Linked DNA regions of Homo sapiens: region 1 is linked to region 2. Evidence: fine-mapped expression QTL. Tissue or cell type: whole blood. Region 2 holds a variant in brackets; the other region holds the start of a gene. All regions are shown on one strand. Distances are between the middles of the regions.

Region 1 (8,085 bases), 51 kb before region 2:
CCTTACGCTTGTTTTCCCCTCAACTCAGTACTCTGTAATTCAAGAGGTCCTTTCAATGATTCCCAGCAGAATCAAGTATATGAAGTGTTCAGCTTATGAGATACTGCAGAAATCTTTTTATGGGATTATGCGGAGCTTGAGTGTACCCTTTTGTTAGAGCAACCATCTCATCGTGAAGTCACTGCATCAGAGCTCCTGAGTATCTGCTGTAGTAGCACTGGTCTTAGCTGTTACGTTCCTAAGGCAGCTTAGTTTCAACTTTAAAAATCAGCCAATATCCAGTTTCCTAACCTTTTAATCTCCACATATCCTGCCTTTTAATTTGTTCCTAAATGCAAGCAGTGGATTATGGCTAGTGAAGAAGCATGGATTTGGCTACAAAGCCCATCCTTCCTTGCTAAACGAACACGCACAGCAGAAGCCAGAAAAGCAGACACTGGCGGTGGCAAACATGGTCAAGCTTTCTAACACACACATTAAACAAAAAAAAAAGAATGCTGCCTCAAGGCACATATGTGTTATTTGTAAAATCTAACAAAGGGCCTTTACATGAGTTTTTGTTTTTTTAGACGGGCTGGAGTGCAATGGTGCAATCTTGGCTTACTGCAACCTCCGCCTCCCGGTTTCAAGGGATTCTCCTGCCTCAGCCCCCCGAGTAGCTGGGATTACAGGTGCGCACCACCACGCCGGACTAATTTTTTGTACTTTTAGTAGAGACGGGGCTTCACCATGTTGGCCAGGCTGGTCTCAAACTCCTGAACTCAGATGATCCACCTGCCTCGGCCTCCCAAAGTGCTGGGATTACAGGCGTGAGCCACCGCACCCGGCCTACATGAGTTTTTACAGAAGTTTTCTTGTTTTGAGACGGGGTCTCACTCTGCCACCCAGGCTAGAGTGCAGTGGAGTGATCGTGGCTCACTGCAACCTCGAACTTCTGGGTTTAAGTGCTCTTCCTCCTCCCCTGCCTCAGCCTCTTCACAGCTGGGACTACAGGTGCGTGCCACCACGCCCGGCTCATTTATTTTTTTGTAGGACAGGGTCTCGAACTCCTGGGCTCAAGTAATCGGCCTGCCTCAGCCTCCCAAAGTGCTGGGATTATAGCCACCCAGCCCATTTGAAATGTTAACAATGACAAATACTTGCTTTGGTCAAACTACTATAGAATTCTGTATCATCTTGTTGGGTAATCAGAGTTAATTCCACTAACCAACATATTCAAAGTGAAGGACATAGCAGTAAAATTCCTTAAATACCTGTTTGTTTGTTTTATTTTAAGTTGTCACAAGCTTTCACCTACTGCTAAGAAATAAACTTAAGGCATTTATTGCAACTGACTAATGAATGTATGTTAGTGGCTTAAAGAGGAGCCCCAGAAAAATTAGTTGAGAATTCACAGTTGGAGAACCAAATCCTTAACATACATCTGGGAATAGAGTACAAAAATAAACTTACTTATCAATTGCTTTGAACAGACCACTCTAAACCAGTTCCAACACTGACCAAAAGGACTGGTTACCTTCTATCTTTTGAGGGATCTATGGCAAAGCTACGCATGTGCAGAACTGCAAAATCAGTCTGCATACATGCCATTTCCTGACACGGCCCGAGAACCCATACTCCAATGGTCTCACACCAGGTAAACAAGTTTGCCATATCCAGCAGGTGAACTCTGAGCGAGTTAGCAGACCTTACAATTTTCTGTTTTTTTTGTTTGTTTTAAGTCAGCCTTAGTTTTCTTTTTACTGTTTAGAGATGGGGGTCTCTGTTACCCAGGCTGGATGGTATGCAGTATCGTGATATAGCTCACCGCAGCCTCAACTTCCTTGAGCTTAAGCGATCCTCCCACCTTACCCTTCCAAGTAGGTAGGGTTACAGGTGTGTGCCACCACACTCGGCTAATTTTTTTTTTTTCTTATGGAGACGAGGGTCTTACTATCTTGCCCAAGCTGGTGTGAAACTCCTGGGCTCAAGCTATCCTCCCACCTCAGCCTCCCAAAGTGTTCGGATTACAGGCATGAGCCACCGCGCCCGGTCTCACTCTAAACAGTTTTTTTAATCTTGACAAGTTTTAAACTGGACCTCCACATTTAGGGACTTCAAATATTTCCCTCTCTGCCACAACATCCCCACTGTCGCTGAAAACACCTTCCTATTACTGCTAATGTGACTGAAATACAAAAGAGAGCAGAGATTAGTACAAACTTCGAAATAAAATGAAGAACACCGGGACTCTAGCCTCTGCCAACTCCTAACATCCTACCTGCTCAGTTTATTCCTTCTTTAAATATGAACAATTTCACCCTGGTAGACAAGTCAGTGACTGGCACAGTGAAAACAGAGGTAAAAACTTCACCTAGTACTTGGCACATGGTAAGCCCTCAATTAAAGGTAGCTATTATCAACATGGTCATAATATTGACAGACTTGATTACAGAAATAAAACCTTCCCTGTTAAAGGACAATCCTATAGTCCAACACACAACAATAGACATTATGTGTATTTGGCGCAAAATAGACGCCAGATATCCTAAGACCTTAGTTCATTTGTTTTGTTTTTAATTAGTTTTTTAAGTTTATTTAATTATATTACCTCCACCTACCTTTACAAGTAAGTAAACTCGGGGCACTCACTCAAGGTCTGGCAAACTGGGACCCAAAAAGACTGAATTCATAGTCTGCGCTCTTAACCCCACAATGAATAGCCACTGAAGGATGACTTCCTCTTCGACAGAGGAATGGATCTGGGACCAGGTTATTAAATAAGAGATCTGAGTTTGAAAGGTCCTTGGGCCCTCACCCACCCATCTAAACTTGAACACTATCCAATGTTAATTCAACATTAAAGGGTAGAACAACTTAGTGGTTTTAGGAGCGTGGACTGATGAGTCACACAAACCAAGTCTTAAGGCCTGCTGTGAGCCAAATACTAGCTGGGTGACCTTACCCTTTCTCATCATATGCAAAATGGCGATAAGAACAGCACCTGCTTAATCGAGCAGTTTTGAGTATTAATGTAAATGATCCACGTAAACCACGCAGCACAGCGCTCATTAATGTAACTGCAAATGAGAGCCATGGAAAAGGGCAGGTAGGAGCTATAAAAGAAAGTGGAGCCTGTCCCCGAGTAACCCAGCCGATGAGAGCAACGACTCTCCCCAGCAGCAGGGGCAGTCGCCCCCGCCCACTGCCGCAGGCCCGTCCTTACCGCTCTTGGGTTTAGACTCGCCGGCTGGCCCCGCCGAGGCGGAGCGGGGCGGCTGTTGCCCTTTGCTGCTGCCCGAAGAGGCGGAGGAGCTGTTGGAGCCGCTGTTCTTGTCCATGTCGGAGGCGGTGGCGGCGGCGTTGGGGGAGCTCAGCGGCATCAACGGGGGCCTCGGCGGCGACGGCAGTCGGAGCGGAGCGGGCGCGGCGGGGACCCAGGCTCATGGCGTTCAGGGCCGGCGGGGGTCGGCGGCGGCAGCGGTTCTCGGCCTTCATGGCGACATTTTTCCCTGTTTCCTTCCTTGGCTTCTCAAACTAGGAAGAGAAGCGGCGGACGGGGCTGTTAAGCCCGGCGGCAGCGGCGACCGAGGACGAGGAGGCCGGGGCTCGGGAGTCCGGGCCGGGCCTGGCGGGGCGGAGGCTGCGGGGGAAGGGGAGGCGAGGGAGGTTGCGCGAGCCCCGCCGGCCGGCCGGCCGGACACGCTCTCCCGCCGCGAGGCAGGGGAGAGGGCTGGCTGTCTCGGTGTCGGGGACTAGTGTCTCCGACACAGCAACGGATACTCGCCCCTGGGCCGAGGCCGACCTGCTCCGGGAATGGCGACGAGTCGCCAAACAGCATCTCAAAGAACCCGGATGGACTGTATATATAGTGGAGAGGGGGTGAGGTATTCTGGGAAATGTAGTTTTTGCCTACATCCGGGTCTCGTGGTTTGTTTTTTGGTTTTTGTTTGTTTGTTTGTTTTGGTTTTGTTTTTTTTATTTCCTCCCCCACCTCCGCCCCAACCCCACTGTGAGGGCATTCAAAATAATGGGACTTGCAGTTGCTCCAAGTCCAGGTTTTTCACTTAGTACACTAAAAATACAGTAACAATAATAATATACACTGATAATAATGTAGCCAAACATTGGAATACCTGTGGAACTCCTTTATAGACTCGTTTGATTTATGGTTCTTTTTTTTTTTTTTTGAGGCGGAGTCGCTCTGTCGCCCAGGCTAGAGTGCAGTGGCGCGATCTGGGCTGACTGCAAGCTCCGCCTCCCGGGTTCACGCCATTCTCCTGCCTCAGCCTCCCGAGTAGCTGGGACCACAGGCGCCCGCCACCACGCCCGGCTAATTTTCTGTATTTTTAGTAGAGACACGGTTTCACCGTGTTAGCCAGGATGGTCTTGATCTCCTGACCTCGTGATCTGCCCACCTCGGCCTCCCAAAGTGCTGGGATTACAGACGTGAGCCACCGCGCCCGGCCAATTTATGGTTCTTATTCTAGCGTTAATACCAATTGATTTATGGCCTTTAGTCTATCTCATATTAGGAATAATAATAATAACGTTAATAATGACAATACCTTACATTTAATATCACTTTACGGCACTTCTTCATACAGTACATCACTTTATTTCTTTAGCCTGGCGTGGCGGTGCGCACCTGTGGTCCCCATTACCCAGGAGACAGAGGCGGAAACAGGCCATAAGCAGTGTTTCATGCGTGTAATCCCAACACTTTGGGAGGCAGAGGTGGAAGGATCCTTGGAGGCCAGGAGTTCCAGACCAGCCTGGGGAATATAGCGAGACCCCTGTCTCTAAAGAATAAAAATATTTTTTAAAAAATTAGTTGGGCAGCCGGGCGTGGTGGCTCACACCTGTAATTCCAGCCCTTTGGGAGTCTGAGGAGGGGGCAGATCACTTGAGGCCAGGAGTTCAAGACCAGCCTGGCCAACATAGCAAAATCCCGACCCTATTAAAAATACAAAAATTAGCTGGGCTCTGAATAAAATAGTTTGAATAAAACTAACTTTAATTTAAAAGAGAGAAAGAAAAAAAAATTAGCCAAGCATAGTGGCTGTGGCTGCACACCTGTAGTTCTAGCTACTCAGGAAACTGAGGTGGGAGGATCACCTGAGCCCAGCAGTTGGAGGTTGCAGTGAGATACGATCGTGCCAGTGCACTCCAGTATGAGTGACAGAGAGGGAGACCCTGTCTAAACTTTTTTTTAAAAAGTAGAAACAGAGAACAAAAAGCAGATTAGTCATTTCAAAATTACTTTTCTTGTAAAGGTTTAAGCAGAATGGACTTCCTTATGTGGGGTAAAACTGACCAGTTTGGGGATTTGATGATTTCTCAGAAGGTCAGATAAACAATTTCGTTTAGGCGTGGTTGGGTAGAAATTCACCTTGAGTAACTCTGTTTTGGTTTGGTCTACTGTGCTGAAGCTCAGTGCAAAACAATGGGCTCCTATAAATTGTATTTAACAGCTGTTAACATTATCACATTTAATCTTCTCAATAACTAAATTTTAGACTAAGTGTGCCTGTAGTCCCAGCTACTCAGGAGGCTGAGGAGGGATGATCACTTGAGCCCAAGAGTATGAATCCAGCCTGGGTAACACAACAAGACTCTGTCCCTAAATAAATAAAATTTAAAGATGAGTAAATGGACTCCAAAAGTCCAGATAATTTGCCTATTATCACATAGCTAACAAGTGATGTTCTTACCTATGAGACAAGCAGTTCCTCATTTTACAGATACAGACTGAGATTTAGAAAATCATGCATATGGGGCCGGGCACGGTGGCTCACACCTGTAACCCCAGCACTTTGGGAGGCCAAGCCGGGTGGATCAACAGGTCAGGAGATCGAGACCAGCCTGACCAACATAGTGAAACCCCGTCTCTACTAAAAATACAAAAAAATTAGCCAGGCGTGGTGGTGCGCACCTGTAATCTCAGCTACTGAGGAGGCTGAGGCAGGAGAATCACTTGAACCCAGAAGGCACAGGTTGCAGTGAGCCAAGACTGCACCACTGTATTCCAGCCTGGGCAACAGAGCGAGACTCCATCTCAAAAAAAAAAAGAAGAAAGAAAATAATGTATGTGGGTCAGGTGCAATGTAATCCCAGCACTTTTTGGGAGGCCTGTAATCCCAGCACTTTTTGGGAGGCCTGTAATCCCAGCACTTTTTGGGAGTTCGAGGCGGGCAGATCACGAGGTCAGGATTTCGAGACCAGCCTGACCAATACAGTGAAACCCCGTCTCTCCTAAAAATACAACAATTAGCCGGGCGTGGTGGCGCACACCTGTAGTCCCAGCTACTTGGGAGGTTGAGGGAGGACAATCGCTTGAACCTGGGAGGCGGAGGTTGCAGTGAGCTGAGATTGGGCCACTGCACTCCAGCCTGGGTGACAGAGCGAGACTCTGTCTCAAAAAAAAAAAAAAAGAAAAAAAAAGGAAAATCATGTATGTGGCCAGGCAAGGTAGCTCAATCCCAACATTCTGGGAGGCTGAGGCAGGAAGATCACTTGATGTTAGGAGTTTGAGACCAGCCTGAACATAGTGAAACCAATTCTCTACTAAAAATTAAAAAACAAAAAACAAAAACATATGGTTTACAGATATAGACGCTAAGACTTTGGGAATCATACCACACCTATTTGTACTTTGGAAAATTACAAATGATTCCCTTCCAACCATAGTAGTTTGAGATTCAAAAGATCACATAGACATGCTATTAAGGAAATGACCAGGGCCAGGTGCGGTTGCTCACGCCTATAATCCCAGCACTTTGGGAGATTGAGGTAGGCAGATTGCCCAAGCCCAGGAGTTCAAGACCATTCAGGGCAACATGGCAAAACCCTGTCTCAACAAAAAATGCAAAAATCAGCCCAGTGTGGTGGTGCACACCTGTAGTCCCAGCTACTCAGGAGGTTGAGGTGGGAGGATGGCTTGAGCCTGGGAGGGTGAGAAGTGAGCTATGATTGTGCCACTGCACTCCACCCTGGGTGACAAAGTGAGATCCTATTTCAAAATAAAGAATGAATCAATAAATAAGTAAATAAGACCAGCCTAGCCAAAATGGTGAAACCCCATCTCTACTAAAAATACAAAAATTAGCGCCGGGAGTGGTGGCTCAGCACTTTGGGAGGCTGAGGCAGGTGGATTACCTGAAGTCAGGAGTTCAAGACCAGCCTGGCCAATATAGCGAAACCCCATCTCTACTAAAAATACAAAAATTAGCCTGGCATGGTGGCGCATGCCTGTAATCCCAGCTACTAGGGAAGCTGAGGCAGGAGGATCACTTGAACCCAGAAGACAGAGGTTGCAGTGAGCCGAAGTCATGCCACTGCACTCCAGTCTGGGCAACAGAGCAAGACGCTACCTCAAAAAAAAAATACCTTCCAACAGTCCTTGTCCTACTTCACTTTTTACAGGTTTTCCTCCACATATCATATGAAATAAGAGAACAGTGAAATACTGTTGGTCTGGATACTTAATCTGATGTGCAGAAGGAACAGCCCTAAATCCTGAGATCCATTCTTTTATATAACTAGATATGGAAGATATAAGATTCTTTGATGAGACTTTATTTATTTATTTATTTATTTATTTATTTATTTTTGAGATGGAGTCTGGCTCTGTCACCCAGGCTTGAGTGCAGTGGTGCAATCTCAGCTCACTGCAACCAGTGACTCCTGGGTTGAAGGGATTCTCCTGCTTCAACCTCCTGAATAGCTGGGACTACAGGTGTGCACCACCATGCCTGGCTGATTTTTGTATTTTAGTAGAGACGGGGTTTCACCATGTTAGCCATGCTGGTCTCGAACTCCTGACCTCATGCAATCCGCCCACCTCGGGCTCCCAAAGTGTTGGGATTACAGGCGTGAGCCACCGCACCCAGCCACTTAATTTCTTTTAACAAAGACATGAGAATTATGAATACATGGATGAATCATTTCGCCCTTGTATCCTTCCTTTTTTTTTTCTCATCACTATACCAACGAGGACCTTCTATCATTCTTAAAATAAAAGAGAAAGAAACAGAAATCCCAGCGCAGTACTTCCCAAACGAAAGCGGTTAGGTGTCCATCTGTCAGGCTATATTAAACCAGGAA
Region 2 (8,103 bases):
TTACCCAGGAGATGGAGACCAGCCTGGGCAATATAGCAAGACCCCATCTCTACCAAAAATAAAAATAAAAAATTAGCTAGTATAGTGGGGTGTGCCGGTAGTTCCAGCTACTCAGGAGGCTACAGCGGGGAGGATTGCTTGAGCCCAAGAGTTCAAGGCTGCAGTGAGCTATGATTGCACCACTGCACTCCAGCCTGGGCAACAGAGCGAGACCCTGACTCAAAAACAAAAACAGAAACATCTGTTTGCAAAGCCCTGGTTCTCTCAGGGGACAGAGAGGGGAATGCAAAGAAGTTGTTTTTCTCTCTCGGTAAGAGCAGAACCCTTGGTACCCCCAAACTTATCATCTTAGGATCACAAAGCCAGAGCTTAAGGCTGTACATAATAATCTGTTTCTTCCAGGAGCCACTTCCCCCAAGAAACTCCAAAGGTATTATTTCATTAGCAGGGTGCCAGGTGGTTTTGGCCAGGGCCTCTGCAACTCTTTTCTCTGTGACCATTTTCCATTTCGGCTCATATAAATCAACCTTTACTACAAAGCTATAAAGTAAAATAATGTAATGAGTGCAGCCAACTGCAGCTGTTCTCAAACTCAATGTCACAGCCATTACACATGTGAAATATTTACAGGGGTTTTAATCAATTTTCTTTCCTGACACCCGTTTTTTATTAAAAATTACAAAAATAATAAATGCACATGGTAGTAGATACAGAAGAACACAAGGAATGAATTATAAATGTTAACTGTACAGAGATAACCATTGTCAATATTTTGTCTTAAATACATCCAGTCTACAGATAAGAACATATTCATATCATATAATACCTATCACACTGTATGTATCTTTTTTTTTTTTTTTTTTTTTTTAGACAGGGACTTACTCTGTCAAATAGGCTAGGGTGTAGTGGTGCGATCGTACCTCACTACAGCCTCAAACTCCCAGGCTCAAGGGATCCGACTGCCCCTCCCTCCCAAGTAGCTGGGATCACAGGTGCACACCACCACACCTGGCTAATTTTTTTGATTTTTAATAAAAATGAGGTATCACTATGTTGCCCAGGCTGGTCTCAAACTCCTGGGCTCAAGCAATCCTCCCACCTTGGCCTCCAAAAGTGCTGGTATTATAGGCATGAGCCACTGAACCTGGCCAATGTATCATTTTTGTTACCTGCTTTTCGTAATCCCAGCACTTTGGGAGGCCGAGGCAGGTGGATCACGAGGTCGGGAGTTCAAGACCAGCCTGGCCAAGATGTTAAAACCCTGTCTCTACTAAAAATACAAAAATTGGCTGGGTGTGGTGGTGGGCGCCTGTAATCTCAGCTACTTGGGAGGGTGAGGCAGAGAATTGCTTGAACCTAGGAGGTGGAGGTTGCAGTGAGCCGAGATCGTGCCACTGCACTCCAGCCTGGGCGACAGAGCAAGACTCCATCTCAAAAAAAAAAAAAAAAAAAAAAAGCCTTCTACAACATAACTATTTACTTATGTATTTTTAAAGATGGGGTCCCACTCTCACCCAGGCTGGAGTACAGTGGTGCAATCCTAGCTCACTGCAGCCTCAAACTCCTGGGCTCAAGCAGGCATCCTGCCTTCACCTCCCAAAGTGCTGGGATTACAAGCATGAGCTACTGCACCCAGCCCAATTTTAATAGCTTCTTTATAGCCCATGCGGCCAGGGGCGGTGGCTCACGCCTGTAATCCCAGCACTTTGGGAGGCCCAGGTGGTTGGATCACTTGCGGTCAGAAGTTCGAGACCAGCCTGGCCAATATGGTGAAACCCCATCTCTACTAAAAATATAAAAAATTAGCCAGGTGTAGTGTTGCGTGCCTGTAGGCTACTTAGGAGGCTGAGGCAGGAGAATCGCTTGAACCCAGGAAGCAAAGCGGAGGTTGCAGTGATCCGAGATTGCGCTATTGCACTCCAGCCTGGGTGTCACAGTGAGACTCCGTCTCAAAAAAAAAAAAAAAAGTCCATGCATAACTTCTTGAAACAATCACTTATCAGTGGACACTTAAGTTGCTTCCAGTTTTTCAGTATTGTAACAGTGCTTTGTTCTGATGAATATCTTTCAAAGATAAAAATAATCTTTTTAATTCTACTTTCAGAAGTAATAGGTACTCATTGTATAAAAGTGAAACACTGTAGAAATTTAGAATCTGAAAAAGAAAGTTCCTTTGTAAGATCTGTAATCTTACAACTCAAAGATAATGTTAAAATTTGATTTTTTCCCGGCATATAACAGGCTTTTTTCCTTTTTACCAAAATGGGATGATTCTGAGTTCCCTGTCACGATATATAAATCTACTTTATTCCTTTCATAAACTTCCATGCATTTCCACCACCTGTCCCCACCCACCCACCCACATCTGTATACACACATTCTGCCTCCCTTGCCGTTACCCTGTATGAACTGTTCATGCTCCTATCTAAGGCCATCTCCCTGGCACTGGGTCCATCTCCTCTCATTCCTGTGATTGTCTCTTCTCCCTCTCCTGCATCATCAGTTTCCCCTGTCTACTGGATTATTCCCACCAGCGTGCAAACATGCTGTCATATTCTTTTAAAAATGCTTCCCTTGCCTACACATTCTCCTGTAGCTACCATCCCATCTCGGCTTTCCTCCAAGAGTTGTCTGTACTCCCTGTCCCCGATTCCTCACCTCCCATTCTCTCTTTAATCCACTGCACCCACACAGCTCAAATGTGGTGGTCACCGGTGACCACCATGCTGCTAAACACAGTGGCCAATTCTCAGTGCCCTTCATGGCCATACATGTCACAGTTGCTCTCTTCCTCTGGGTCCTCCCTTGGCTTCCAGGACCACACACTCTCTTAGCTGTCCTCCCATCTCACTGGCTGCTCCACCTCAGGCTCCTCTGTTTGTTTCCCCTTTTCTCCATGACATCTGAAGGAAGAAGTGAACCAGGCCTTCTCTATTGGGCTACTTCTCTATTTAAACTCTCTCTTGGGAGTCTCCATTTTCATGGCTTTAAATTTCATGGCTCACAACTCTCAAATTTGTATTTTCACCCCAAACTTTGCCCCTGAATGCCCATCCCATATCTCTAAGTCCTATTTGAAATAGCTCTAGGATGTCTAACAGGCATCTGTCTCAAACCTAACACATCCACAACAGACCTATTCTACTCCCAAACCTGCCTGCTTATCCTGCAGGCTTCCTTATCACTGTAAATAGCCACTGCATTCTTCCAGGTGCTCAGGAGAGAGATCTAGAAGTTTTCCTTGACTTGTGTATATTCCTCACACCTCACATCTAATTTAAGCACATTAATGAGCTTAAATTCTTTAAGCTCAATCTTGAAAATATATCTCACCACCTTCGCTCTTCTTCTGACCTTTTTTTTTTTTTTTGATACAGAGCTTCTCTCTGTCATCCAGGCTAGAGTACAGTAGCACAATCTCAGCTCACTGCAGCCTCCACCTCCCAAGTTCAAGCAATTCTCCTGCCTCAGCCTCCCTTGTAGCTGGGGTTACAGGTGTGCACCACCACACCCAGATAATTTTTGTATTTTTAGTAGAGACGGGGTTTCACCACATTGGTCAGGCTGGTCTCAAACTCCTGACCTTGTGATCCACCCGCCTCAGACTCCCAAAGTGCTGGGATTACAGGTGTAAGCCACCGTGCCTGGCCTTTTTTTTTCTTTAAGAGATGAGGTCTTGCTCTGTTTTCCAGGCTGGATCCTGGGCTTGAGGGATCCTCCTGCGTCAGCCTCTCGAGTAGCTGGGACCACAGGCACGAGCCACCGATGCCTGGCTAAATTTTTACTTTTTTGTAGAGATGGAGGTCTCGCCATCTTGCCCAGGCTGGTCTCGAACTCATGGACTCAAGCAATCCTCCTGCCTCAGCCTCCCAAAGCCCATGTCTGGCCTGGGCTGTCTATTCTGTCTCACTGCTCTATGTGTTTATCTTTTTGCTGATACCACCCTACTTTGAATACTGTAACTTTATAGTGAGTCTTGAAGTTGGGTAATGTGAGTATGTGAGTCCTCTGACTATTTTTTTTTTCAGAATTGTTTTGGCTAATCTAGTACCTTTGCCTTTCTCTGTAAAAAAATTGTTTTGGCTAGGCCGGGCATGGTGGCTCACGCCTGTAATCCCAGCACTTTGGGAGGCCGAGGCAGGCGGATCACAAGGTCAGGAGATTGAAACCATCTTGGCTAACACTGTGAAACCCCATCTCCACTAAAAATACAAAAAATTAGCCGGGCACGGTGGCAGGCGCCTGTAGTCCCAGCTACCTGAGAGGCTGAGGCAGGAGAATGGCGTGAACCCGGGAGGTGGAGCTTGCAGCGAGCCGAGATGGCGCCACTGCACTACAGCCTGGGCGATAGAGCGCGACTCCATCTCAAAAAAAAAAAAA[AT/T]TGTTTTGGCAAATCTAGTACCTTTGCCTTTCTATGTTGCCCGGGCTGGAGTGCATTGGCTACTCACAGGCATGATCATGGTGTATTATAGCCTCAAACTCCTGGCCTCCAGCGATCTTCCTGTCTCAGCTCCCAAGTAGCTCCCAAGTGTGCAACTGAGACTACAGGTGCAAAACACAGTGCCCTGGCTTCTCTGTAAATTTTAGAATCAGTTTGTAGACAGTGTCTGGGAGGAAAAACTTTTTATCTACCCTCAGGTTTAGTCTTTGGGGACCTGTGAATTAAACAGACGAAAGATATATTAACAAGAGAAGGCCAAGCGTGGTGGCTTACACCCATAATCCCAACACTCTGGGAGGCTGAGGCGGGAGGATCACTTGAGTCCAGGAGGTCGAGGCTGCCGTGGGCTAGCATCATGCCACTGCACTGCCCCATGGGCAACAGAGCGAGACCCCTGTCTCTAAAACAAACAAAAAGAAGACAAAATTTAATCATTTATTTTATTAACATACATATGGGAGTTCACCAGAAAGACTATCCACATTACTAGAGATGGAAACTTTCAGCTCCTTCCCCCAACCTCCAGGGAGGGGAGTGGGGCTAGAGACTGGGCTCCAAACACTCTTGAACAGGAGGTTCCGAAAGTCTGGAATGATGAACGCATTGATGTGCTGGGAGGGTGGTGCACCTGGAGAGGACATGGAAGCTCTGTTCCCACCTCCTCCTGCTGTGCCCCGCCCCATGCCTTGCCCTATGCATCGCTTCCATTTGGTTGATCCTAGTTGTATCCTTTATAATAAACTGGAAAATGTAAATAAGGTGCTGTCCTGAGTTCTGTGAGTCACTCTAGTAAATTATTGAACCTGAAGGGGGTGAGTGGGAACCTCTGAATTTGTAGTAGGCCCAACAAAAATGTGGGTAGCTGGGGCACCTCATTTGTGCAGGCATCTAAAGTGGGGGCGGTCTTGTGGGACTCAGTCCTTAACTTTTGTTCAGGGTCTGTGCTAACTCTGGGTAGTTAGTGTCAGAACTGAATAGAATTTTCAGAGGTCCAGTTGATCTCAGATAATTGAACAATTGATGTGGAAAAATGACACGTATCTGGTGCCAGAGATAAAGACCGCACCACACATTTGGTGTCAGAAATAGTGTCAAAGATAAGACATCACAGGAAGTCACTGGTATTAGCACAGTGTTATACATACAGACTTCAATAAATATAAGAATCATAAACTACAAATAGGAAAAAAGAAATTAAGAAATATGTGAGCCGGGCATGGTGGCTCACGCCTGTAATCCCAGCACTTTGGGAGGCCAAGGTGGGCAGATCACGAGGTCAGGAGATCGAGACCATCCTGGCGAACATGGTGAAACCCCATGTCTACTAAAAATGCAAAAAATTAGCTGGGCATGGTGGCGGGCGCCTGTAGTCCCAGCTACTCGGGAGGCTGAGGCAGGAGAATGACGTGAACCCGGGAGGCGGAGCTTGCAGTGAGCCAAGATGGAGCCACGACTCCAGCCTGGGCAACAGAGCGAGACTCCGTCTCAAAAAAAAAAAAAAAGAAAAATGCTTTGAGGTGGAACAAAAGGCATAATGGGAGACAACAAGGCCTTTCAGAGGTATAAACTCAAAGGAAAGTTCTAGATTGGGTCACACAGGCCTGGGCCCCTTACTAAGTCAAGGACCTGAAGGCTGAGGAGGCCTTGGCCAGGCAAAGACTCGGGAGGCAGAGGTAGAGGGAGCAAAACAGTGTCCAGGGAGAGGAGCCAGCCCATGCAAAGACCTGGAGGAAGGAAAGGGACACAGGCTTCCAGACAGCAGATCCCAGAGAAGCTGCCAGGAGTAGCAGGAGTGGAGGAGAAGCTGCTTCAGGCACATCCTGAAGGCCAAGGTGAGGGTGTGGAGATGGTGTTGTCTCTAGGGAGGCAGACACTTTGTCCCCTCTGCTGTGTCCCTAGCATCTAGCACAGTACACACTGTAGATGTCAGTATCTTGGAGATCTTTTCATATCCACACATATGAATGTGGTATTTTTAATGTTTGCATAGTATTCAGAACTAGAACTGTACATTTCCTGCTTAACCAGCCCCCTCTGGATGCAGATTGAGGTCCCCTCTAATTTTGGGGGAACCATAGGTTTTAATAAACATCCTCACATTTTGAATTCCGCTCCCCCTGAGCCCCATCTTCCTCACACAAGGAGGGATGATTGGATTTTTGCTTTGTCCCCTTCTGCTGTCCTTCTGTCTTCCAAACAAGCATCCTTTTGCTATTCACAGCTCTCCTTTGGACACTGTGAGACCATACTCCCCTCAAGGCCCCTTCCCCCAGACTGATCATGCCACCCCTTTACAATCATCCTATTCAGGGATATACAATAAACATTTGTATGGTAAAGGCAACTCATACTGATTGCCAGTGAACATCTGAAATACTTAGGACTGACATGTGTAATCTAACCCAGCCAGGCTCTGATTTACATTAGGGCATCTCACTGTAAGTAGCTTGTGGCACTAGTGCAAGGAAGAACAGCCCTCACCTCCACCCCATGCTCTAACTGTGCTGAACTATTTAGCTTCCCGAAAGCCCCAAGCTTGCCTCTGTCCTCCCAGCTTTCTTTGCAGTGCTTTCTTTCTGTCTGGAATGCTTTTCTTCTCCTCTCATTTACCTGCCTAGCACCATCTGGTTCTTCAGGTCTCAGTTTAGAAGAGCCACTCCCTCCAGGAAGTCTTCCCTGAACACTCCCCTCCAGCCTGGGTTAAGAGCTGCAGGAGTGCCCTGAATTTCTTGTAGCACATATCTCATTTTGTTATAATTGCCTTTTTAAATTTTATTATTATTATTATTATTATTATTTTTTTTTTTTTTTTTTTTTGGAGACGGAGTTTCACTCTTGATGCCCAGGCTGGATGGTGTGATCTCAGCTGACCACAACCTCCGCCTCCCGGGTTCAAGTGATTCCTCTGCCTCAGCCTCCTGAGTAGCTGGGATTACAGGCATGTGCCACCATGCCCGTCTAATTTTTTGTATTTTTAGTAGAGACGGGGTTTCTCCATGTTGGTCTCGAACTCCTGACCTCAGATGATCTGCCCGCCTCAGCCTCCCAAAGTGCTGGGATTACAGGCGTGAGCCACCGCGCCTGGCCTATTACTATTATTTTTTACACGGAGACTTGCTCTGTCACCCAGGTTGCTGTGCAGTGGTGTGTTCTCGACTCGCTGCAACCTCTGCTTCCCGGGTTCAAGCGATTCTCCTGCCTCAGCCTCCCGAGTAGCTGGGATTACAGGCACCTGCCACCATGCCCAGCTAATTTTTGTATTTTTAATAGAGACAGTTTCACAGCCTGGTGCGGTGGCTCACGCCTGTAATCCCAGCACTTTGGGAGGCCGAGGCAGGTGGATCACCTGAGGTCAGGAGTTCAAGACCAGCCTGGCCAACATGGCAAAACCCTGTCTTTACTAAAAATACAAAAATTAGCTGGGCGTGGTGGCGGGCGCCTGTAATCCCATCTACTCGGGAGGCTGGGACAGGAGAATTGCTTGAACCCAGGAGGTGGAGGTTGCAGTGAGCAAGATTGTGCCATTGCACTCCAGCCTGGGTGACAGATTGAGACTCCATCTCATAAAAAAGAAAAGAAAACAGACGTGGTTTCACCATGTTGGCCAGGCTGGTCTCGAACTCCTGACCTCAAGTGATCTGCCCGCCTCAGCCTCCCTAAGT

What was found. PIP is the estimated chance that this variant, and not a neighbour inherited with it, causes the effect.
Region 1: RNF10 starts here. The variant in region 2 is fine-mapped to the expression of RNF10 in whole blood (INTERVAL, PIP 0.93).

Annotation. Positions count from the first base shown.
Region 1 is chr12:120,530,089-120,538,173 of GRCh38, reverse strand. It overlaps RNF10 (ring finger protein 10), which reads right to left and starts at 3,818. Exons shown (of 17, transcript NM_014868.5): 1 at 3,206-3,818. The coding sequence starts at 3,362. It overlaps LOC128071547, which reads right to left and starts at 3,477. Exons shown (of 1, transcript NM_001414895.1): 1 at 3,217-3,477. The coding sequence starts at 3,477. The coding sequence ends at 3,217. RefSeq lists silencers at 3,599-3,668, 3,767-3,920.
Region 2 is chr12:120,478,605-120,486,707 of GRCh38, reverse strand. It overlaps a transcript of DYNLL1 not described here. Among named protein-coding and RNA genes, the nearest start is that of SRSF9, 13 kb to the right of the region's middle. The variant AT/T (reference allele first, on the strand shown) is at 4,381.